Regions from separate parts of the Homo sapiens genome. Here all the other regions are linked to region 1. The links come from fine-mapping of genetic effects on gene expression. A gene starts in region 1. Each other region holds a variant in brackets. All regions are shown on one strand. Distances are from middle to middle.

Region 1 (8,179 bases):
TGGTTTTCAATCTTTGGTCTGTTAACTATCTTGCAAATATTTTCCTCCGGGTCTAAAGAAGAAATTTTTACCCAGCAGCATTGTCCAGTGACTGAATGGAAGTGAAGCTGTTCAGAAGTTGCATAACCACTTGCTAGGGAGGAATTTGGTACCTCCCTTGACTTTTTGTGCCTTCTTTCTCATATTAATAGAATATCTCAGAAAAGAGCTTATCCTACTGTATTATGGTTGTTTATTTTTTGGCCTCATCCATTCAACAGTGATCTCTTTGAGGGCAGGGATGAGGGTCTGTGAGTCACCTCTGTATTGCCAGTACCCAGCTTTGGGTCTAGCACAGAGCAGGCACTCAGAAAATATTTAGTGGATGAATCAATGGACAGAGGGTTAGATGGGTCTTGTTGCTGGATTCCGGCCAGGGTTTGCCCTGTAACTCAGCTAGGAGTTGTTTTGGATCCTTAAATAGGGTGACAGAAGAGGAGCAAGAGGACCCTTTGCCCCTAGTTAGAGGAAAGTGCCCTCTGGGTGGCTTGTCTTCCCTCCATTCATTTGCATGTTAGATACTCTGGTGCTCAGAGACAGCAATAATGACAATAGCCAATACATGTAGTGCCTTTAGTGTGCTTTGTACACATTAATTCATTGAATTCTCACAACTTCTCCGTGAGGTAAGCAGTATCAGTATTATCTCCATGTACAGATGAATAAACTGAGGCACAGTGTGGTTAAGGAATTTTCCCAAGATCATACTGCTAATAAACGGCAGAACTGAGATATGAACCCAGCTGTCTGGCTCCGTAATCTGTGCTCAAGAGAGAACATGAAAAACACTAGGCCTGGTACAACGTAGGCACTAAACAAACGTTTCTCTCTTCATTTACCATCCCTCCCCAAGAAGTGTGCCTTTTTTGTTAATGATATCTCAGACCTGTAGCTTGGCAAAATCCAATCTTGGCCCTACTTTTCCTCTGTAGCTTTTGTCTCTGAACCATACATCCATCCTTGCTGGAAGTGCCAACAATCCCTGTTCTCCTAGGAACCTGGCAACCCCAATTCCCATGCAGCCAGCACAGGGATTGAGGCTTTCCATGATCCAGGCCTGTTTTTATCCTTTAGCACCCCCAAATCCTGACACTCTGGCCCCAAGGCTTTGCATGGTGCTGCCATCTGGAAGGTACAGATGACCACTGACAACCCTCTCTGAAGAGTGAATGGCCATTGGCCAAGACTGGTTCACTGTTCGTCTTTAAACCTCAGGTCAGGGTACCCTATGCAGAATGTAATCAGTTGGTGGCTGAATTCCATTAGTGACTGGCCTTCTCTAACTCTAGTATCAAAGGTATTTTGAATGAAGGCTTAGTGTTGGGGGAGTCACAGTGTGGTGGTACTTATGCGTAGGAAGTCCTATTCAGCTCGCCCTCAGTCACATCAAGAGAAGAGCTGCCTACCCAATGTAAAAGATGGGTGAAATCCAGAGGCTGTAGTAGATAAGCTTTATCAAGAATCTTCAGCCCCATTGTATATGCCTCAAGGCACTCACTCTCCTCTTGTGGCAGGAGTTAAAGGAGACCCTAGATTCTAACTCTCAGGATAAGTTTGAAGAACTACGTTGTACTGGAGTCTCTGCTAGGCCTGCTTACACCTATTATCTGATTAACTCCTCACAATGATCCCCAGCAGGAGGCAGGATTTATTTAAAGTAAAGGAGAGGAAACACTTAGGAGTTAGATAAATGACCGAACTTGGGAATCAGAAACATCCTTACAATCCAAGGATGATTTTTAGCAGCTTCCTGAGCTCAGAAAAGAGGCCCGTATTGACACAATGAAACTCAGACTGGATCTACCTATCTGGAGCAAAATGGGCAGAGGCTAGGACAACTGGTCATTTACACAAAACCTCAGGAGCACAACCATTACTTGTAGGATTGGATGTATGGTAACTGAATTCAGGACTAAAGGTATGAATTGCTACCCAGGTATTGTTTACGAGGGAGCTTGCAAAGAGACTTTTTTCTGACCTGTGACTGCAAAATCTTTGTGAGCAAAGCCTTTATGCCCCCTCCCACTTCCTTTGTTTGCAACCAAGGGATTAGGGGTCTTGAGTGGAAAAGTTGAAGGTACTGGGGGTGACCAGTACCTTGAAGAAACCAGCCTTTCATTTTGAATATTTTATCAACCTATGCAGATCATTGTACTACTGATGGTGAAGACAGACATTATGAATAGAAAGCCAATGTGCTGGAGCCCAGCTAGCGACGATGAGATGAGCCCCTTGGTGCTCATAGCTTTAGTTCCTGTTAGCTTCCATTAGGGGAGAGAGGGCTGATACTGGTAGGTAGAGAAACCAAGTATTGCTAAACAGCAGGATGGAGGTCACGGAGCTGAGCTCTGGCCTGGAAAGGGAGTGACCATATCTGGAAGGAAACTCACATGATCCTAACCACTCACTATGTGTCCTGCACTAATTAAAGCCCTTTCTGGAACATTCTCTCAGTTAATTTTCACAGCCTGTCCTCAGTAAGGTATTGTCTACCTACATTTGATACATGGGAGAAATTGAGCCCTACTGACTTTTTGAAATGTGTCCAGGCTCTCATAACTAATACATGGTGGATCTGGGATTAGAACCCTGGAGTCTGCCTGCACCTCCAGAGAAAATTCTTTGAACAGGTCAACTCAAACCTGTGACTTTTCAGAGAGGAGAACCTGTTCAGCATTCTTCTTTTGTTGTATTCATCCCCTCTACAGTTACACATTATCTTAGAGGATCAGCTGTACAAAATTTAAGATCACACAATTCACTTTGTTTTCTTCTTGACCCTCATTTTTTTAAACTTGGGATTTAATTTTTTTCCATTAAGAATGTGAAAAGAATGAGTATTGCCTTCTCTTTCTAGTCCTGTGGTGGTTTAGGAAGATCCCAAGAAGGGCTGAACTTCCAGGGCTCCTCCTGGGAGAGGGGGCAGAACAGAAGGAAAGATTACACCTTAGCCTGTACTCAAGGGCATTGCTTGTAAGTCTGTCCAACCAGAAGAAAGTTCAGATCCTTTATTTGTGAGCTGGATTATACCTCTGGAAGAGAAAAAAGGGAGAGACAAGTTTTACTCCCTCCTGGAGGCAGATTTCTCTACCTTGATTTTTTCAGAAATTGTGTACATTCTCTCCTCTCATGTATGTATCTCCTACATACCATACACACGATTCTTCTCCCCCTTCTATACCCCAGCCCACGCCAACCCACACCCACTGTTCTCTCTTCCAGCTATGGATCAAGGGAAATCTTCCCGGGTCCCTAGTTGGTATCTGTTTTCATAGCATCTTTGGGGAGGTTTTGTAAACAAAGCATTGGTAGAAGGGCCCTTGGCTGATGGGGCCATAAAGTGCCCTTTCTTTGGTTTTGTGCTCTCCCTCTCTTGTGGGGCCAGTCATTTGAATCCAGAAGATATCCCAGGATGGAGCTGCCCTGAGTATTTCTGTGGCTGGTTGGAAGGCTGGCACACAACAAAGTGGGCATGCAGCAGGCTGCCTCCCTGGCTTAGGCCAAAAAAATAAAGCAACTCAGAGATGGAGAAGAGGCAGGAAATCTATGTTGTAAAAAGTCTTTGTTTAAAGGAATTCCGTTCAGGTGCTGAGAACGGGGTGTTCAGCAGAAGAGGATAATATGAGTAAACATTGGCAGTAAGAACAAACACAGCAGTATCACTGTCTGCGTCTGGCCTCCTCCTGTGCTCAGTCACAGGTCTCTCCCACCGCCCTCTATGATAGCAATCATAAACAACATGTAGAAGGGCTTTACAGTTCACAGACCTCAGTTCCCCTCAGCGGCACTTCCTTGCAGGGTTTCTTTATGCACTGGATGACCCTGGTTCCACATAAATGAAAACTGGGCTTAAAGGACACATCCATGTCCTGGGAGCTGTACAGACTTAAAGAAAAACCTAGATAGGGGCAAAAATTGGGGCAGGCGGTGGGGGTGGGGGGTGGGGGGTGGGGGGGGGGAAGAAGTGGTCGAGAGAGTCATCTAATAGGTCACCAATGTTGCTTCTGGGAGGTTGCCGGAGGGTTGGCTCCTTTCAGCCAGGTTTAGGGCCAGGTCTGGACACACTCAGGAGGCCGGTGGCTGAAGGGCAGAGGGCAGGGTGGAGGCCCAAGTGAGGCCAAGGAAGGAGTGGATGCCGCTGGGGCTGGCACTTCCTTGGCTTCTCAGCGTCCTGGCAACCAAGAAAAGATTCCAGGAGTCGACTGGTGGCACCAATGCGAGAAGCCCCGGGCGGATGAAAGAAGCTGACCCGTGCGAACCCCCCACCCCCTCCACAAAACCAGGAGATTCCTGCCCAAGAGCAAGAGATGGAATTCCCCTAACGGAGGAAGCTGCCGACCTAAGGGCTGGGACTGGCAGCGCGCCCTCTCCGGGAGCTTCAGGTCTGGGGCAGCCTGTGCAGGCGCGGGTGGAGGCCCGGGCGCGTCCCTGGGGGCGGGAGCCAGGGGCGGCCAGCAGGTGGGGCCTGGGAGCTGGACTCCGCCCCCCGCTCCCTCCCCGTTGGTCCGCTGCCGCTCAGCACCGGCCCCTCTCCCGAGCCGGAGCGCGATTGGTGGCAGCGCTTGTCGCTCGGAGGGGGCCGGGCCGCTCTGCTTCGCGGCTCTCCCCGCCGCCGCTGCCGCTGCCGCTGTTCTCCTAGCAGCGCGGGCCGGTCGGACCGCCAAGGCAGCCGGCGCTGGCGATGGGAAGCGGCGTGGCCGCCGACACAGGCAGTGGCAAAGTTTCCCAGACGTACACATCTGGACGCGCGGCTGCCGGCTACCCGTGACCCCTCTAGGAAGGGTTCAGGGATTTTTAATTTGGAAAAAAATCCACCTGGTTTCCTTTGTCAAGGTCTCTCCGGGTGGCCAGCGGCAGGAGCTGCAAACTTGGGCACGGCGGCTACACCGGCAGCGGACCGGGCTTTGGAGAACCTCGGGACTCAGGTGCTGAGGTGCCCAGCGGCTCCGGACGTGCTACGGGGTGCGAGCGCGGGGGAGTTCGGGGCGCACGACAAGGAAGGGCCCCCGGGAGCTCTATATGGAGGAAGGAGCCCAGAATGGTGTGCACCAGGAAGACCAAAACTTTGGTGTCCACTTGCGTGATCCTGAGCGGCATGACTAACATCATCTGCCTGCTCTACGTGGGCTGGGTCACCAACTACATCGCCAGCGTGTATGTGCGGGGGCAGGAGCCGGCGCCCGACAAGAAGCTGGAGGAAGACAAAGGGGACACTCTGAAGATTATTGAGCGGCTGGACCACCTGGAGAATGTCATCAAGCAGCACATTCAAGGTACGGGCGCCCCGGAAACTTGGGTCGCCCATGAGGCCCGGGAGTGCCCCGCGCGGCGCGGGGTGCGCTGGGGCTGGTGCGCATCAACTCAGCCACGGCGGGGCTCTGGGGCCGCAGATGCGTGGTAGTCGTGGGGCCTGCGTGTGAGCTCCTGCCTGCGTTCGGGACCTTCTGTCTGCGGCCGTGCGCTCTTCCCCGGGGCACACGTGTGTGCGCAGGGCTGCACGAGCGGATGTGTGCAGCTAGCTGGCGGTATGGGGGCGCGCTGCGCACGTGTCCAAATGTGCGTGTGACTCTGGGCTGGTTGCTCGCGGGCTCTCGGGATCGCACACAAGTCCGGCTCAGAGTGTGTGTGCATGTGAATGTCTGTGTGTGTACAAGAGGGAACGCGCGGGCAAACGAGCTTTTTTGGCCACTGTAGGCGTCAGGCGAGATGCCCGCGCGGCGGCCCTGACTATTGGCAGTTAAGACCCGCAGGCTGCCGGACAAGCGAGGCTAGGAAAATTGCGTTGTATCAGCCCCAGCCCCAGTCTTGCTGTGATCCCGTTGGTAGGCGATAGGGAATGCAAGGAGCCCTCTGTGGTTGAAAAGCCGCTTGAACCTATAGCAGTCCCTACCCCCACCACAGCCCGCGGGTCCAGGACCCTCTCCAGGAGCAGGTGTCAACGCCGGGAAGTAGCGCTGGAGTCTCTGTCCACTGTGGTGATGACTCCGCCCAAGACTGGAAGAACACGCCCTGGGCTGCGCCTTCCCCGCGGAGCCGCCCGGGACCGGGTGAAGGCCGATCCCTACTGTAGCTCCACTCTCAGGCCCTGGGAGCAGCCGGGGCTGAGCAGACCTGGGTTGGGTCTGAAGTGTAAGGTTACGCTGGTTGGGTGCGCTCCAGACCAGCGCGGGGGTCCAAAGGGAGGGTGGGGGTTGCAGGGCGCTCTCCCGAGGCGACCTGGTCAATGAGCTGTCATGGGAGGGAATGGAGTTCCGGGCGCCAGGAGCACTGGTGCCGGGTGTGCACACACACACACACACGCGCGCGCGCGCGCGCTCACGTCCACACTTCCTCCCCTCCCCGCGCCCCCTGCTTTCTTCCAGGTGTGTGAGCTTCTTAAGGGCAGGGCCGAGCTTGGTTCCCCTGTAAACCTAGCAGGCCCACCAGGCTCAGGGGCCAGTGCATGGCAGACCTTGGCAAAATCGAATTGAACTGAAGGCTTACCCCCCACCCCCCCGCCAGGAGCACTCCCTTTTGTTTACACGTGGATGTCTGAATTCCAATCCTTGCACCTGCTGCTCTTGCCAGAGTAGAGATGGCTCCTCCGTCTGAATTTGGTGTTTCCCCAGGTGTCCAGAATAGTTCCTTTCCAGGAGGGGAAGGTTCAGGGAGGTTCAGGTGAGTGCAGGAGAGGCATCCACATCCATAGTGCTTCCTGACTAATGACTTCAAAACAAGCCCATGGCTTCGGCACCTTCCCAGAAAAGAGGGACATTGACAGCTTCTTCTTCAGACCTGCCTCTGCCTCTCAACCTGGCACTGGGCTTGAAAACCAATTTACCTATCTGTGGGTGCCAGTTGCTGTTATTTCTTACGTGTCCTTTTCCATCCCATAGGTCTTGATTGACTATTAATCAGCAATAGAAGTACAGTGTTTCCCCCAGGGTGATTCAGAATGTTCCCCAGGAGACACAAAGCCATGCCTTACTTTGACATTTCTAGTTTGCCGACAGATTTTGAGATTTTCATTCACAGATTCTGTGTGTGTGTGTGTTCCTGGAAAATGATTCTCTTGTGCTTTTCTTTCTGGTCAGGCAGGAGGTGAGCAAGGTACTGCTTTGGGGATGCTTTCAGGGGATGCCATTAACCCCTGAGCCTGTAACGGAGTGGGTGCCAGTCATGTGGAATGTGGACCATGTCACATGATTTCTAAGGTTCCACATGGAAAAGCATGATGTTGAAGTTGAAAGGAAGCATTGTGATTTTTCTCCCCGGAAACTTTATAACTATGTGTTGTTCAGCACTTTCAAATCTATACCTGAAAAATTGGAGAAGATAGGTTAAAAAAATAGGAGACAGGGTCCCTAAAACACGTGTTGTTCCACTTGTACACGTGCAATGACCCCTGTGGGTATTCAGAAATAACCACAATCTCGACAGAGGGCCAAAGCTGCCACCTATAGGAAGGTAGGGAAGGGTCAGTGACTTGGAAAGACTGGAAATGAGGCAGGCAGGGGCAGAGGTTACCAGGTTGGCTGTGCCATGATGGTGTAGCAATGACCAACAGTTCCCTTTGCCATGCTGGGGCCATCCTGAGCTGGGATTTAGGAAACAGAGGTAAAGGGCCTATAAAATTTGGGGCTGGTCAAGTGCAGCTCTCTGAAGGCAGAGGGTGGTAAAGGACAATAAGATCAAGCTCTTGTGCTTGATGGTACAAGCTGTTTATGTGTAACCCACTGTCAAGTTCCCTCTAGTCAGCATAGCCCTTTGAACAATCCAGTTTACTTTGCTGAACTGGAGGGAATAAGCGGTAATAATAATAAGAGCTAAAATAACATAGCACCTAGGATATGTCAGGCCCTATTCTAAACACTTTACATATATTGACTTATTTAATCTTCACAACCTTATGAAGTAGGTAATATTTGCTCCATTTTACAGATATGGAAACTGAGGCAGGGAGAGGGTATATGATTTGTCCAGGGTCACACACTGGTATATGATAGTATAGGGATGTAAGCTCAGCTAGTGTGGCTTCAGAAGTCTAAGTTCTTACCCACGTACTAAACTGTCTCCCAGGAGGGCCCCAGGGTCCCTTGGAGTCTGTTGACAGTGGTGGAAGTGGGTGTCAGAGGATGGCTGAGGGGTGAGGGAGTCAGCA
Region 2 (8,179 bases), 210 kb after region 1:
TCCCTGTGGGGTCAGAGCGAGGCTAGACTTGAATGGTGCAGCTGTTTGCTCAGCCTCTTCCCCTGCCCTGACTTGCTTCCCTCACTTGCTGGCCAGGATTCCTCAAGGGCCCTTCCTCGGCAAAGTGTTTATTTAAGAATCAGGAATCTCCATCTCATGCTCCACCTTGAGAGAGCATCTCTAATATTGTCCCATGCCAAGATAATGTGAGCAGTTCCAGGCTGAGCAGGTGAGAGATTTGCTGTAGAAGGATGGCCGTCTGCCCCAGTTGGCCTTTCAGTGCCAAAACAGGCACTGTTCTGAGCAGACCAAGAAGATGGGTCACCCTATGTATCAGCATCTCAATCAGGATGCATTGAGCTCCCGTGGAGCCCAGAGCTGTACTAGATTCTGTGGGAGCCTAAAAGAAGCAGGAGAACATGTCTTTCATGAAATTCAAGGCTTATAATAAGCAAGGGCTTATTTCTGCAAACCTTGCCCTCTGTCCTGGGGATTTCAGTTCTAGTATATTCAGATCACTCCTCGTGTGTAGACAGCGGGAAAAAAATGTTGTCCAGGCTGGAAGGCAGTGGTGACCACAGCTCACTGCAACCTAGATCTCCTGGGCTCAAGTGGTCCTCTCACCTTAACCTCCCGAGTAGCTGGGATTGCAGGCATGCACCACCACACCCAGCTAATTTATTTTTGTTTATTTAGAAACAGGGTCTTGCTGTGTTGCCCAGGATGATCTCTAACTTCTGGGCTCAAGTGATCCTCCCTCCTCAGCTTCCCAAAGTGCTGGGATTACAGGCATGAGCCACTGCACCCAGCCTCCACTAAGTTCTATGAACCTGCCAAGGGCTGTGGCACCCAGGAGGCATTGACAGAGTCAAGCCAGGACCCCACTGTCTCTAACATGTCCTAGCAGGAGGCTGTCTTGGAGGGTGCCAGTGTATAGTTCCCTATGTATACTGGGGAGGGCTTGAGAGATGTTGTCTCAGTGACAGCTAACAGCTTGGGTTAAGTAAGGGTCACCCAGGCCTTTTCACTTGAAGCACCAAGGGCTGCTGCATTTCTGGAGACGCAGTAAGACAGGAGACAGGAGCCACCAGTTCTGAGCCATAAAATTAGACAGCCATCGTTCAACTAAAATTCCAGACCCAGGGGAAAATGCCTCTTAGTGTGCATATTATCTGCAGCAAAGCAAAGCAGACTTTCAGGTGTGTCATTGAAAACTGCAGGGGTGAGAAATCTTGAGAAAGTTTTAGCAAGCAAAGGATGGTAAATGGAAATTAATTATACAGTGCCCCTGATTGCTCATTTAAGACATGTAAAAATACCACCGATGTGCCCTTTAATTCATTTGCTGTCTTTATTATTTGAGTATAATGAACATAAAAATGTGTTAGGGCTTTTCCTAGGTTTGCTTCTGAACTCACTTCCCTTCCCCCCAATATTCCACACAATCTTCAATCCCCCGACCGCAGGATCTGATGGCAGGGTGCTGGCAAGGAGCAGGTGGCACTCTCAAAGTGGGTAATTTGAGCAGTTTCATCAAGAGATGAGTGTAGAGGTGTGAGCAGGATGCAAGGAAGCTGCCAGGAGGGACAGCACAAGACCCTGGGGCTAGAAACAGCAGGAATCCCTCCTACTCCAGGCCTGAAGGGAGAGAGGACACAGGGAAACAGGAGCCAGCACAGGGAGTCCTTGACAGGGAGAGGCTGGGAGATTAAACACCCTCTCTCTGAGTTTCCCACTGTCTCTGATCCTCCCCTGTGGGAGGGCCAGGGAGCCCCGTCCAGAGAGACAAAGAAGGGTGGGGAGAGGCGGAGGGTGCCCAGCCCATGCTGTTGTCTTGGCTGATAGTGCTGCAGGGCGTAACCCTGGTAGTGCAGGGAGCTTTGAGTTAACTTCTAGTTGCTCCAATGGAGTTTAAGGTTTAGCTATGGACCTGTCACTGTGTATTAATCTTTGTTTACATAGATAGCAGGGATAGAGGTGACCTCAGACAAGACAGACAGAAGTCAGCCCACAGAGGAAAGAAGACCTGAGACTCACATAGCAGAGGGGACTCAGGACTTGGTCCAGTCCCCTTATTAGTTCCCCGTTCCAACTCACATAGTAATTTGGGGACAAAGCTAGAACCAAGGACAACATTGAATAAAATGCAGGGCACAATGACTGTCTTTAGAAAGGGCTGAGATCAGAGATTCCTGCATGGAGCTGCCTCTAGTGACTGGGGAGAGCATGGAGCTGGGGTGGGGGTGGGCAGAGAGGATACGGGGAGTTATCTGGGTACAGATGTATCATGGGGCTTCACTTTGGGGAACCGGGGTCCCCTAGAGGACCTGGCTGAGCACAGGAAGGCTGGCTTGTGGTGAAGATAGAGATCTGACGAGTCCCAGGACTGTGGCCGGGTGGAGTCCCAAACTCTCTCCAGGCCTTGCCCTTTAGCCAGACCAGACTGTGCAGAGAGCAGAGGCGGCTTTGATTCTGGGACCTGCTGGGCCTGCCCTGTGGGAGGACAGGGATACAGACTGCCTTTAGGGAGTTCACGCACTAGGAACCCAGACACTGACTGAGTTTCCTTCCCAGGATTTGAGCTGCTGACCCTGAGCAGGGAGCTGGGGAGAAGAGCATCCTGGCTGCCCCCATGAGCCAGTAGCTAGAAGCAGGTGGGCAGAAGGCCACCAGCCACCAGCCTCCCACGCCTCAGCAGGGAGTGGCATCTGTTGGTAGCATTTGGAAGGAAATGCTGGTTTCACCTCTAGCCTGTGGTACCAGGGCTGTTTTTAATTAAAGACACATTCCCTTGAAAAATACATCGTGACACCTCAATGCCTCACCACCACGTCAAAGTTGGAGGAGTTGGTGATTAGGACGCACATATGTGTCTGTGGGTTGCTGCTGTTTTGCCTTTTGGAGCCTGATCATCTGGGCTCACGTGTCAGCCTTGAGAACAGCCTAGGAATGTAGTTTTTCACTGACCCAAATCAAGTGGTTCCTTTGCAGAGCACTGCTCTGACCCTGGCCCTGTGCCATATATACTCATCCTGTGTCTTCAAGGAACTTATGGTCAGGGGTGAGGGTGGAGGCTCCAGACGCCATGGAAACTGACTTGGGCCCAGTAGGGGCTGTTAGCATGTCAGATCAGCACTGGGTCCTAGCAAAAATAGACCTTCCCTCCTGCCTACGATGCAGGTGTGGGTGCCTTGCCAGTTCCCCACAGAGACTGAGGGGGCAGCCTCTTTTCCTTTATATAAGAAACATTTGTTTAAGTGGGAGAGTAGGAGTCACAACAGGTGACCCCAAAGAGACGGCGACTCTTGGAAGGCAGGAATGCGACTTGGTGTGCATATGCCTCCTCTGCCCGACTCACCTTCTTCCAGAGTCTTCTCTGCATAAATCTTGGGTGCTCTCTGATCTGTTCATTGAGAGGAACATTCCCCTAGGCCACATGGCGGTATATTCCTTTTTTTTTTTTTTTTTTTTTTTTTTGAGATGAAGTCTTGCTCTGTCACTCAGGCTGGAGTGCTGTGCCACGATCTTGGCTCACTGCAGCCTCTGCCTCCCGGCAAGCAATTTTCCGGCCTCAGCCTCCCAAGTAGCTGGGATTGTACAGGCGCCCGACCCCAAACCCGGCTAATTTTTGTATTTATTAGTAGAAATGGAGTTTCACCGAGTTGACCAGGCTGGTTCAAACTCCTGACCTCAAGTGATCCGCCTGCCTTGGCCTTCCAAAGTGCTTGGATTATAGGCGTGAGCCACCACGCCTGGCCAGTAGTATATACTTTTTAATGTATGGTTTTCTGATTACTGTTTTGTATAATTTCTCTCTCTGGGCAGCTCTATTGTAAACTCCTCAGGGAGAGGGCTACATCTTAGACACAATGTTTCTTATAGGGCGCTCAGGACACACTGCTTCAAGGAGTGAATGACTGCGGGTGGGGCCTCCACTCGGTGCATCCAACAGGCAGCTGGGAGCTCTGCCCTGGCCTCCCTCCCTCTCTTCTGTGGAGCAGCCATGGCTTGCCGCTCTTTACTCCTGCTGCTCGTAATCCCAGGGGATCTGGTCCCTTTTCCTTTAGCTTTCCAAACCTTTGTTTGGCCATGCTCCCTCTTCTCCTTTGCCCTCCTTTTAGGTTTATTAAGTTCAGTGGCCAAATAAAGTTTTGCAGCTCCCTTGTCCTGCAGTGCCTCCTGACTGTCTGGGATAACACGGTTACTGGGAATATCTCCTCTCCTGTCCCCTAAATCATCTGGCAGCATTGGCTGGCTACATCATGCAGCTGACTTTGAGAACACTCCGCAGTGCT[G/A]TTTCTGAATAATAATAAATGGGGCTGAAGCCCAGTGGCCTTTGCTATTTATCTCTGGCTCTGCAGAACAGAGACGTGTGTGCTGAAGTGGCACAGGCTGTGTCTCAGCGGTGGTGGCTCTCTCAGGGGAAGGCAGCTTCCCTAATTGCCTCTTCATTGCAGAAGTGGCCTGGTCTGTTTCCTCAAGGGAATGTTTGCTAATCTGATTGGAGGGTGCTTTCAGCGATTCAGCACCAGCCTTTTGCCTGGTCTGTCAGAAAGCCACACGATTGCAAAGAAGGATGACTGTCAGCTGGACACGCCAACCTTTAAAACCAGCCCCTGCCATCCACAGCCATCCTCAGGCACTCCTCCCCTTTACGGCCTTGGCCTGAACACATTGTCTCTGCCTATGACGTGTAAAATCCCAGCTTGTTCCCAAGTCCTGGGCTTGGCAATCTGCTGGTTTAAATCCATTAGGCTCAGTACTTTGGCAATGAGCTTGCTTCCTCCCTGAACTGAGTAGGTTCTTTCTCCACTTAGGCTATTCTAAGCTGTCCTAAGGAAGGCCTCCTCCTGGTCCAACCTGGCCCCGAGACCCTCACCTCAGTGCAAACCCTCCAGGGATAATATTCCTCCTGGCCTCACCCTCTTGCAAAGAACCTGAAGACCCACACCTATGGGGCAAGGCCTTGGGCTTTCTTCCAAAAGGGCGGGGATGGGAACATCCACTGGCCAAGGACATGACCCTGGACTATATTTGACTTTGATAATTCCCATGTCCTTTCTGTTCTGCTGGCTTTTATCTCAGGCATCTCCCATGTATTCTGATTATCATATTTGTTTTGATGACTGTGATTCCAGAATATGGCTTTGGCCACATTTTGAAATTATTTTGGTATACTGCCCCGACTTGTATGGCATTTTAACCCTCTGGGTCCCTGGTGTTCAACTTTGCCTTTATTGTACTGCAATGGCAACTGGGAACCATCCCTTCCTTTCAACATGGCTGAAATAGTACATAAATGTCGAACCATTTCTGCAAGCGACTTTGGAGATGGACAGGGGGCTGGAAATATCAGCGTTTTGTGATACTTACCAGCTTTCAGTTCATTTAGTATAAAAAGTTAGCCCTATGGAGACAGAATATTTCAACCTTTAACTGTAATTTGATAGTTGTCACCAGATACCAAGGTGGAAAACCAGAAAAGGTACAATAAACAGCTGAGCTGAGTCATTACAACAGACTCTTATCTTGTAGAAACTGCAGACATTATGATGATTATCCTCCTACCTACCAAAGGAGGGTTGTCTACAACAGCCCTGGCAGCCACTAACCCAGGCTATATGCTTAGCCCATAGTAGGTGCTTGGAAAATATGGCTATTATTTTAAAATTCAATGACATACAATTGCTCTCACAGATATATTTTTATTAAGATGATGATATAAGTTACACAGTTCACAAGGAGAAAATCACAATAGGGAGATACACTGTGGGGGAATGTTTATCCTCATGTAGCTGTTTGGGACTCTCCGATCTCTCTGCTATGAACCTCCGTGAGATGAGATGTGAGGCTTCTGGTCCAGCAGGACTGCCGACACCTTGCTTGTTGTAGAGGACCATGTTGAAGGTGCTAAAAATCAAATTAGGACTAGTGCAGCAGTAAGGCTGCCTGCAGCAAGAAAGACATGCAGAATATAGGCATAGCATGGAAGGATCACACACCCATATGTCCTCCTTGCCACATAGAACTCTTACCCATCGCTGCATGAGTAATCTTGACTTTTCTCACTCTCAGGAAACGTGAACTTGCTCTCTTCCATCTGATAGCTTCTAGGCATTGAAAAGATATCTCCCAGCTTGCAGATTGGACAAAAGGCGCCCTCAGAGGGCCCCCACTTGTGGTCTGCATTCGGCGCGTCTCTCTAACTTTCCTAAGGAGAAAATGTGATCCTTTCCTGTGTTCTGAGACTTGCCCCTGACAAAGAGCCCTCTTGCTTCTATGTGGTTCTCTTTGCTCTAAATCCAAAAGCCCATGGAAGAAGAGACCTTGAACCCCAGACTCATGTGCACAAGTACCCTCCTCCTCCAAGTCAGTGAAAATCTGCGACACCCTTCCACCTCCATCTCATTCCTTCCAAAGTCTAGCCACTTCAAATTCACTTTGAAAAGGATTATTTTAACTCGTCTCTGTGGAGGAGATAACCATGGTCTTAATTTTGTCTTAAAAACAATATAAGTGTAGTGGGAATAAAACCAAATGATTTTTAACAGTGATGCCGTGGTTTTCTCATGAGTCTCCTTCACAGCCTAGAAATCTAAAACTAAGGGAGGGAAGAGGAGCTGTCTCCTGTATCCACCTTGCCCTGACCACCCACACCCCACATTGCCTCCCATTACCCAGCACAGAGTGGAGAGAAATAAGAGTGGAGGCCATTGACTCAGGTTGCCACGGCCGGGGCTCAAGGCACAGAAGTGTCAGGTAACTGAGTCTGACTTCTCTAAGGTACAAGAAGGTGTCTGGCCACCTGACATACAGTTATGTGGGAGAATAGGAAGGAGAAACACAGAGCACAGCAAAGCAGCTCTGTTGCTTCATCTGTTCCCCCATGACAGGCGGGACCCCTTTCATGCTCTGCTCTAGGAAACATGATTGGCCTGGGTGGCCATGGGCTGGGAGTGGAGTCCGGGTCTGCTGAGGTCTGGGTTAGGTGTGGCTGGGGCATGTTCAAGTTGAGGCCAGGTGGTGGTGAAATCATAGCTGATGGAGTCGCCAGGGTATGGTCAGGGTCTGTGCGGGGCTGGAGCCGGGAGGAAGGTTGAGGTCAAAAGGATGTTAAGGTTGAGATGAAGTCAGAGTTAGGTTGAAATGAGAGTTGAGACAGAGAGAGTCCCATTTGAATGAGAATATGGCTGCGGGCAGTAAAGCTTGAGAGGAATTCCAGAACGCAGGGTGGGGCGGAGGGCTTAGGTTTGGATGGAGCCGTGGTTCAGATACACTCAGACATTTTCCTCCCACGTGACTCTCCTTACTTCTATAACATGGAATGTTTGGCTCACTCCCTGGGCGCCGTTTGATCCTTAACTCCTTCCGGGCCAGGGCTTACATCAGCCTTTGAGTGCTTCAGCTCCTGCTCCTGCTCCTCTTGCCTTGCTAAATTTCATGGGCATTTGCTTTCCCTAGGGAGGGTGAGAGAATAAAAGCAGCCGAAGTTGAATCCAACTAATATACCCGCTTGTCTTACCCCTATTCACAGATGGATGGTGAGGCAGAGGCATTGGCACTGAAGCCCAGGGCTCCCCTGGGGAATTCAGTGATCAATGCCATCCCCATTTCCTGGAGCAGCGATAATTGGCTCCATGCCGTGCACGCATGAACTCCCCTAGACACTCACTCCTTTACGGAAGAGAAAGCCCGTTTCATGGGGAGCCCATGAGACATGGGAATGCTCTCCTCCTGCTGCCAGCAAGTGGCGGGGCATTCGCTCATCATTTGCCTGGTATCTCTGGGCACAGCTCCCTCAGAAGAGCCAGGCTGCCTGGATCCTGCCCACTGCACATGACTCCTCTGGAATAGGGGCCAGGAATTGAGGACAGGGATCCTCCGACCATCTAAGGGGGAGCAGTTACAGCTGCTGGCAGCAGGGCTGGGTTTCCTCTGTACCATCCACAGCAATTAAACTGAAGGACAAGGAGCAACCTCACCCTCTTCTGCAGCATCACGGAGCACTGTGTCCTACAGCCCACAGACCGTCAGCACTCTCTCCTGTACCTGGCCAGGGGGAGAGTTGGCACAGCAGTTAGCAGAGTTCACAGCACAGTTGAGGGTGAGGCAAGGCTACTGTCTACCAAGCAACCTGTCCTCCCCAGGTGGTGGGCACTGGCTTGGATCAAAGCCTCTC
Region 3 (8,179 bases), 36 kb after region 1:
AAAATAATAGTAAAAATATAATATAGTAAATACATAAACCAGTAACATAGTTGTTGATCATCATTATCAATGATTATGTACTGTACATAATTGTATGTTCTATACTTTTATATGACCGGTAGTGCGGTAGGTTTGTTTACATAAGCATCACCACAAACACCTGAGGAATGCATTGTGCTGTGACATAAGGATGGCTGTGATGTTACTAGGCAATAGGAATTTTTGGGCTCCATTGTAATCTTACGGGACCACCATTGTATATGTGTTCTGTCATTGAGCGAACGTCATGCGGTGGGTGACTGTACAAGATTCAAGTCAATCTTCACAGCATCCTTGTTGAGCAGACAGTAACATGCTCATTTTATCAATGAGGAAACAGATTCAAAAGCAAGTTGGGAGTGATATCTCACTAGTATATCCCTGTTGCACTGATGCAGCAGAACAGCCAGTGTCCTTCTGATTGGTTGGTGCCTAATATAGGTAGAGTAAGGAAAGTTAATTTTAATGTCAACTTCCAAACCAGTGGCTTTAACCAGTACAATGAAAATATCCCTCACTTACCCAACAAGCAATGTGGAAGTTCCTTGTGGGCCTGCAGCCTTCCTTCCATCCAAGGACATAGGCTTGGGCCCTGTCGCTTTCTGCGTGACCCCTTGCATGCAATCGGCAGATACGGGGAGAGAGAACATGGAAAGAGCATGGAGGTGCCCATGAGCCAGGACTCGCATGGAGCACCTAATTTCCACCACATTTTATTCACAGAATCAGCCATGTAGCAGCCGCTGACTGCAAGGGAAGCTGGGAAATGTAGTCTACCTGGTTTCCCTGGAAGAAAGGAAGGTGGTTTTAGTGAACACACAGCAGTGTCTGCCACATGACCATGCTGCATTGGTTATTACATATTTGAATATCACCCCTAGGTAAAGTCACAAAGGTAGCAAGTGGCAGAGCCAGGAGTAGGACCTAGGTCTGTGTAACCTCAGATCTGGATTCTTTGCAGGGCCTCTCATACTCCTTTAATGGCTGGCTCAGGTTCTGCACCTCTGGATGCAGTGGGTGTTGTGATTGCCTATGTGGACTCTCTTTCCAGGCACCAACAATTCTATAAAACATGTGACTGCTCTCCCTTTCCCTTCCATGGACTATCTGGGCTACAAATTTGAGAGTAGGTTGTTGGGAATTTTTGTGAGCAGCCAACTCAGGATCAGGTCTGTGAAGCTCCTGGCTTATGTGGTGCTCAGTGGCTCTCTTGGGAGTGAGGGGCGATAGACAAACTGTGTCACTCTCCCCAGGAGGGCTGGGCTGTCATTAGCATTCAGCAAGGCTGTGAGTCTTGTTGTACAAATCAGCTGTTTAAAGGCCTTAAAAAAAAAAACCCCTAAAACTGCTGAATGCCTCTCGTGGTTGAAGCTCTTATGAGTATGGAGCTAACAGTTTCCCACGACTGCTGAACAGCAAAAGGGGAGCCATGGTGTAGTGTTTTCCTTTTGATTCATATTTGGAGTCATTTTTAGCAATACGGCAAAATGTGAAGATGCTCTTGGAATGTGGGCATTTGTTACCTTTGACAAAGGAGATTGCTTGTATTTTTGTTTGTCTGTTTTGGTTTTTTTCTTTACAGCTCTTGATCTTGTTTATTCAGAGAAGCAAGAAGGATCTGTTGGTTTCATAAATGTGCTTCTATTCTTGAAAAAATGCTAGAGTTAGCCACTTCTCCCCCCACTTCCTCACTGGTCTGTGGCAGGAGACTCAAGTTGCAAACTAACGCAGCCCCCTTTCCTTCCTGGCTTCTCCCTCCACTCCTATGGGGGTCATCAGGGGGAGGGGCAGAGAGCTAACCAGCAGAGTCCAAACACATTATCTCTTTTGTCTGGGTTTCAGAGTCAGTTTATTTTCTTCCATCAGTTGGGAAGGTGATTCTATGCATAGGGATTCCTTGTATGGAATCTTTCCCAAGATAGGGCTTAGTGTATTGTGCCAGCTTTGACTTCAGTCACTCTGCTTGCTGATGCAACTGACCCTGCTTCATCAGGCCTGGGCAAAAACAGGCCCTTTTAGTAGAGTTCTAATGGGCACTGCTTGTTCGATGGTAATTAACTGGGTATTGGGAATTTCCTCAGTTCCAGATGTCTGGGAGTTAGAAACAAATAACATCTGTTCTCATCAAAAGGTAGAGTGGCAAAGTACAAATCACAAGTCACTCTCAATAAATGCAGGAGCTGGCGTTTGAGATCCACAGTGAAGCCAGATTACCTGTTTGCAGTACTCCTCTATGGATAGAGGAAACAGAGCTAAACATTTCCTCTGAGCCTGGAGCTGACCTGGATAAGCCTCTTCTTGCTTAACAGCACCCCTGAGTCTTCATCCAGATTTGGGAAGAGGATGAGGTTGGTTAGCATGCTGAGTGATAAGGAAGAAAAGGATACTGTGGAGCCCAGCACCTGTCTGATCTAGGGAGAGAATTCATGACTAGTAGACAGAGGCCAGAATTGACTCGCTTCACAGGAATCAAGGTGTAACATTATTCCTTCCCTCCCTCCTACTCTTCCTTTCTTCTTTCCATTTGTCCGTGCATCCATTGGTTTAGTCAACAGACATTTAAACAGTACTCACTAAATGCCAGATTCTTTGCTAGGTGACTGGAGGCATGCAAAGGGGGAGATGTAGTTCTGCCTACAAAAAGCTCACAGTCCAATAGGGGAGTGGAGACATGGACAGAAGTAATCCATTCCCAAGGTGAAAAGTGACTAGTGCCATAAGAAAAGGACAAGAAAGTGTGAGGGAAGGTTGGTGGGGATGAAACCAGGAAGGGGGTATGGCTCACTTCCAGCTGAGCAGATGGGTGTGTAGGTTTGGGGAAGTTTTCATGGAGAAAGAAGTATTTGAACTGAGCACTGAAAGATGGGGTAGATTTCAACTGCAGAAAGTTGGGGAAAGGGTTAGGAGCCTCAAGCAGAAGGACTTGTGTGTATAAAAGTGTGGAAGCTGGAAACAGCATGCCTATTTTGTAATTTATTGGTAGAGACATGCCACTCTTAGTGAATTAGTAGAAAGGCTTCCTTTCTCCCCCTGCCTCTCTCTTTCCTTTCGGATTTCTATATTTTGTGTTCTTATTATTCTTTGGACCATAGAAGAGGTTCATGAAATGAAAGGGTGGGGGCTAGAGATGGGGTGGGCTTTACCAACCATTGACTTTTCCCTCTTCTTTAAGTTTGATCACCTACCAGGGGAAGTCAAGGGGAAATGTTGCCTGTTAATTTTCCTTGTTATAGGTTGGTTTTGATGTTGATGACTGGTATTACTTCTCTAGGATATAACTTTGGAAACAGCATTGGTGAGGGCATTCCATGTAAAACATCAACTTCAGCTTTTCTGTTGTAGGGTATTTTCCGTGCTTGACTACTGATGGTCTTGCAAAGCTCCTGTATTCAAATCCTAGGCTGAGCTCCAGAGTGCTTCCTCCTAGATCGAGGCTTTGGATATGCTCACTGCTCATTAGCAACCTGCAGAAAAGCTGGGATGCAGTCTTCACTGATTTGGTGTGTAACGGATTCCTTGAAGGGAAGCCTGCTTTGCTGATGGGGTCAGCATACGTGGCGTACTGACATGGGAATCATGGCATTTCCAGCCAGTGCTCAACTCTGTGGAATGCTTCCCCTTTCAGCCCAAGTCTCAAATTGCCTCCAAGTTTCCTCATTTCTGAGAAAGTGAGCCAGTGAAGGTTGATATTCAAATATATAAACAGCTAATGTGGCATTTGGCAGTGTCCAATCAGAACCAGTCATATAGTGCTAGAGCAAATTGCTGTGCCAGGCAGTAACTGTTTTGTGGCTGGCTCTTGGGGAAGGTTTGGATACTGGGGGAGGGGTCAGGATAATGGGTGCTGGAAGCATCTCTCAAGTAACTTGGGAAAGCAGCTTTTTCTAAAATGGGAGGAAATTTGAGTTTATTTATTTATTTATTTATTTATTTGGAGATGGGGTTTCACTCTTGTTCCCCAGGCTGGAGTGCTTTGACACGATCTCGGCTCACTGCACCCTCCGCCTCCTGGGTTCAAGTGATTCTCCTGCCTCAGCCTCCTGAGTAGCTGGGATTACAGACGCCCGCCACCACACCTGGCTTTTTTTTGTGTGTGTGTGTGTGTGTTTTTAGTAGAGATGGTGTTTAACCATGTTGGCCAGGCTGGTCTCAAACTCCTGACCTCAGGTGATCTGCCCGCCTCGGCGTCCCAAAGGGCTGTGATTACAGGCATGAGCTACCAAGCCCGGCCTATTTCAGTATTTTAAGAACTGATATGGTGGAACCAGTGCATACCAGCTAAA[T/C]ATAAATGCTGAAACGTTTTATTTTTTTTAAAAGATCAACTATGTCCTGACTACAGCCTAAGCAAAAGGGTTCCTGGTGGTTTCTGCCTGTCAACAGGGAAGATCTCACTTCACAGAGGCTGAAACTGGGGCTAGTTATGGATGCTGGGCCCTGAACAGGTAGAATTTCCTATCTTTTAGCTATAGTTTAAGCCAGAAGTTTTCAAACTTTTTGGTCTTAGGACTCCTTTATGCTTGTAAAAATTATTGAAAACCCCAAGGGAGTTTTGTTGCTATAGGTTGTATCAGTTAATATTTGCCACAATAGAAATTTAAACTGAGAAAATTTCAAAATAATTATTTTATTTAACAATGGCAATAATAAACCCAATTACATAAATTAACATAAGTAGCACACTTTTTGTGAAAAAGAACTACAGACTCTTGGTACAATTTGTTTTAGTCCATTCAGACTGCTATAATAAAATACCCTAGATGGCATGGCTTATAAACAATAGAAATTTATTTTTCACAGTTCTGGAGGCCGGAAAGTCCAAGATCAAGGGGCCAGCAGATTCAGCATTTGGTAAGGGCCCACTGCCGGGTTCACAGACCACCACGTTCTTGTTCCATCCTAACATGGTGGAAGAGATAAGAAAGCTCTCTGGGCTCTCTTTCGTAAGGATACAAATCCCACCCATGAGGGCTCTACCCTCATGACCAAATCACCTCCCGAAGGCCCCACCTCCCTGGGTTAGGATTTTAGCATGTGACTTCTTTTGTGTGTGGGTGGGGGGCCACAAACATTCAGTCTATTGCAGTTTCCAAAGCAACAGCCAAAAAAAAAAAAAAAAAAAAACTTATTGAGAAGAGTGGCCTTGTTTTCTATTTTCACAAATCTTTTTGATACCTGGTTTGATAGAAGAAAAATGGAGTCTCACATTTACTTCTGCATTCAGCCTGTTGTGATATGTTGTTTTGGTTGAAGTATGAAAAAGATTTTTCGGCCGGGCGCGGTGGCTCATGCCTGTAATCCCAGCACTTTGGGAGGCCAAGGTGGGCGGATCACCTGAGGTCGGGAGTTCGAGACCAGCCTGACCAACATGGAAGAAACCCCATCTCTACAAAAAGTGCAAAATTAGCCAGGCGTGGTGGCGCATGCCTGTAATCCCAGCTACTCCGGAGGCTGAGGCAGGAAAATCGTTTGAACCTGGGAGACAGAGGCTGTGGTGAGCCAAGATCACGCCATTGTACTCCAGCCTGGGCAATAAGAGCAAAACTCCATCTCGGAAAAAAAAAAAAAAAAGATTTTTCTTCACAGATATATGTAGATGGGAAAAGAAGGAGTATTTTAATATTTTCAGATAATTATGGATATTCTTCTTTGATACTACACCCAAACTGGACAAGTGATAAGTTTCTAGAAGTTGGAGTGAAATCTGAAACCACATCAGTAAATGTTTTATATTCTGTTACATCAAAATCTGTGGTCTGCCTTGTACTTTGCTTATATCTTTTATCCAAGCATGATTTTGTAATATTATACATTAGTCATTTGGAAAGGATAAGCTCACAGAGTTAGGCAGATCTTCTAAATGTGGACATATTTTATTATACAGTGTGAAAAATCACTTCCATTAATATTACCATTTATATCATCAGAAGTCTTTAGGTGTTGGGAAGCCGTCAAGCTCATAGTGGTGGAGGCAAGTTTTCCATAATTATAAATTTTCCTTAAAAGCTTGGATTTTATCACTGGGGAAAAATATTATCACTTATTTTCCTTGGAGTGACAAGACTTTGAGAAAAGTTCACCAAATTCCCAAGTATGAATAATTATGATTTGTTCATCAGTTGTTCTTTTAAGTGAAAATAGTGTTTCATGAAAAAAGTACGTAGTTCATTGTCCACCTCGATTGTATAAGCTCTTTCTCTTGAGACAACCTTCATACTTCAGTCTGCAGCAGAAGTGCTTTATGTGTATGTGTGCTTATAAGATAGCACTGACTAATAGGAATAATTTACACTGTGACTCATTGGGTTTGCTTCTTTGCTCTCCACACTCCTCAGGAATCTCAAGGGGCAAACGGCTCTCTGTGGGTGTTTCACTGAAGACTCGCCTCTCGGTCCTTACGTGTTCAGACGTGCTTCTCTGAGCTCTGCCTCCATCATTCACTGCTGAGAATATGGCCAGTTGAAATGCACTGGAGAATAGGAACCCATTTCTCTTACGGCATCTCCCATCAGCTTTCCAACAGTAACCTGATGGCTCCAAGGTTCCTGTTTACTTTGATTTACTTTTCCAAGACTTTAAAATACAAACTGTCCCCTTGTGTTTGCAAGGTGTTATTTATTTATTTTTCTTCTTCCCTGGACATAACTTCCAGGCCTTTCCTGGCATAGGTCAGTGTCTATCCTCGAGCTTCCTGTCCCCAGCTGCTGGAAGGACACTTTGCTCTAATTTTATTGCCGCTGGCCCACTTGTCCTACCATTTGGAACCAAGTTCCCTGGAATCTCAGGGGCCGCTTCTTCTACTTCCCCTTTTTACTTCTCTCCGTATGTCCTCTTATCTCTTTTCTGCTTGACCACAGTTTTCAAAGCTTAAATCTGTCTCCAGCCAGCCCAGCTCATGATGCCATTCCTTTTCGAATTCCTATGTCCTCACAAGAATTCAGTTCATCTCTATTTCATTGAGTGTGACCTTGTGCTTTCATCTTGTGGGGAGCCGTTGACTTGTCTAAGACCATAATTCATTTATTTGGGCCTTATAATGATATTGAGATCATCTGCTCCTTGCAGACAGGGCTATTTCTTTATTTCTCCCTCCTAGCCCAGTGAATGCCTTGCACATCATGTGAGCTTAACCATTACTGGCCGATAGTGCTATAAGTCTGGTTTGATTTTTGCTTTTCTGAAAGGAGCTGAAGCTTTAAGCATTTTCCCTGACCACGTATGTGGTCAGGGCTTTGGAAATATCTTGGTGTGTGTTCTTCAAAATGTCGGCATTTGAAGAAGTGGCGTCTCATGGGACCTCTGGTCTTTGGATGTCCTACATTTGGGGAATGAGATGTAAATGTATCCTTTGCTGGGGCCAGGTGGAGAGGAATTTAGTAGCTACAACTCTTATTTATTGATTAAACTCAGCTTTCGTGCACTTTCCAGCCAGAAACAGAGCTAGAAACCTTTTTACCCCGTGGATTTTATTTTCACCTATGGATTCAGATAGTCTACATTTCTTCATTCATTCAGAATGTATGAATTGAGCTCCTCCTATGTACTTGGCACTGGTCAGCTGCTCTGGAGGACCCAAAGGCATCTGATAGGTCACCATCCATTATGAGATATAAGTGTGCACACAGAGGGCTAGCATCTAGAAGGACCAGCTGCTTTGAGAAATAGCCCCAGGATGGTCTTGCCAGAAATAGGAGACCAGGGTGGAATTGGCTTTGTGTTCCCTGACCAATAACTCAGCAGGAGACTGGTTCTGTGCTGCTGTGGAAAAACCTCATTAAAGGGACAAATTGAGTGTAACTTCTCAGGAAAGAGCTGGAAAGCACCAGGCTTTGCTGGCCCTCCTGGTTTTTATGGAAGAGCACATGAACGACCTTCCTGAGTTGAGTGTTGGCAGGACTTAGAGTCCCATGCCTCTCATTTTGGGATATAAAAATAGCATGGGGGATAATAGGATGGTTCAGGGAAATCTTAGATCTTCCTCTCTGCAGGACCATGACAACCACTTCTGTGGGGTGTGTGTGGCAGTGGCTGTGCTCTGTGGCTGTGGTGAGGAGTTGGAGAAAGAGGTGCAGCTGATGTGGGTCCGTTCTTCACTCAACAACTAGAGTAATCTTTTAAAAATGCTTACTTCCTAAAGCCCTGT

Which allele goes with the higher level. Positions count from the first base shown, and alleles are read on the strand shown. Sizes are in standard deviations (SD) of each study's normalised expression.
As copies of G replace A in region 2, the expression in atrial appendage of the gene that starts at base 4,666 in region 1 goes down (small effect, 0.39 SD a copy in GTEx).
With allele C in place of T in region 3, the expression in aorta of the gene that starts at base 4,666 in region 1 is lower (moderate effect, 0.47 SD a copy in GTEx).

The links.
Region 2: its variant is fine-mapped to the expression of GALNT18 in atrial appendage (GTEx, PIP above 0.99).
Region 3: its variant is fine-mapped to the expression of GALNT18 in aorta (GTEx, PIP above 0.99).

What each region holds. Positions count from the first base shown.
Region 1 is chr11:11,618,492-11,626,670 of GRCh38, reverse strand. It overlaps GALNT18 (polypeptide N-acetylgalactosaminyltransferase 18), which reads left to right and starts at 4,666. Exons shown (of 11, transcript NM_198516.3): 1 at 4,666-5,312. The coding sequence starts at 5,078. RefSeq lists silencers at 4,364-4,723, 5,474-5,553, 5,574-5,643 and enhancers at 4,226-4,726, 4,844-4,923, 5,134-5,183, 5,924-6,153, 6,224-6,363 and 1 more.
Region 2 is chr11:11,403,663-11,411,841 of GRCh38, reverse strand. All of the region lies in intron 3 of GALNT18 (polypeptide N-acetylgalactosaminyltransferase 18), which reads left to right. Among named protein-coding and RNA genes, the nearest start is that of CSNK2A3, 55 kb to the right of the region's middle. RefSeq lists enhancers at 2,475-2,976, 7,146-7,440, 6,863-8,062, 7,405-8,179. The variant G/A (reference allele first, on the strand shown) is at 4,296.
Region 3 is chr11:11,582,783-11,590,961 of GRCh38, reverse strand. All of the region lies in intron 1 of GALNT18 (polypeptide N-acetylgalactosaminyltransferase 18), which reads left to right. Among named protein-coding and RNA genes, the nearest start is that of GALNT18-AS1, 17 kb to the right of the region's middle. The variant T/C (reference allele first, on the strand shown) is at 4,323.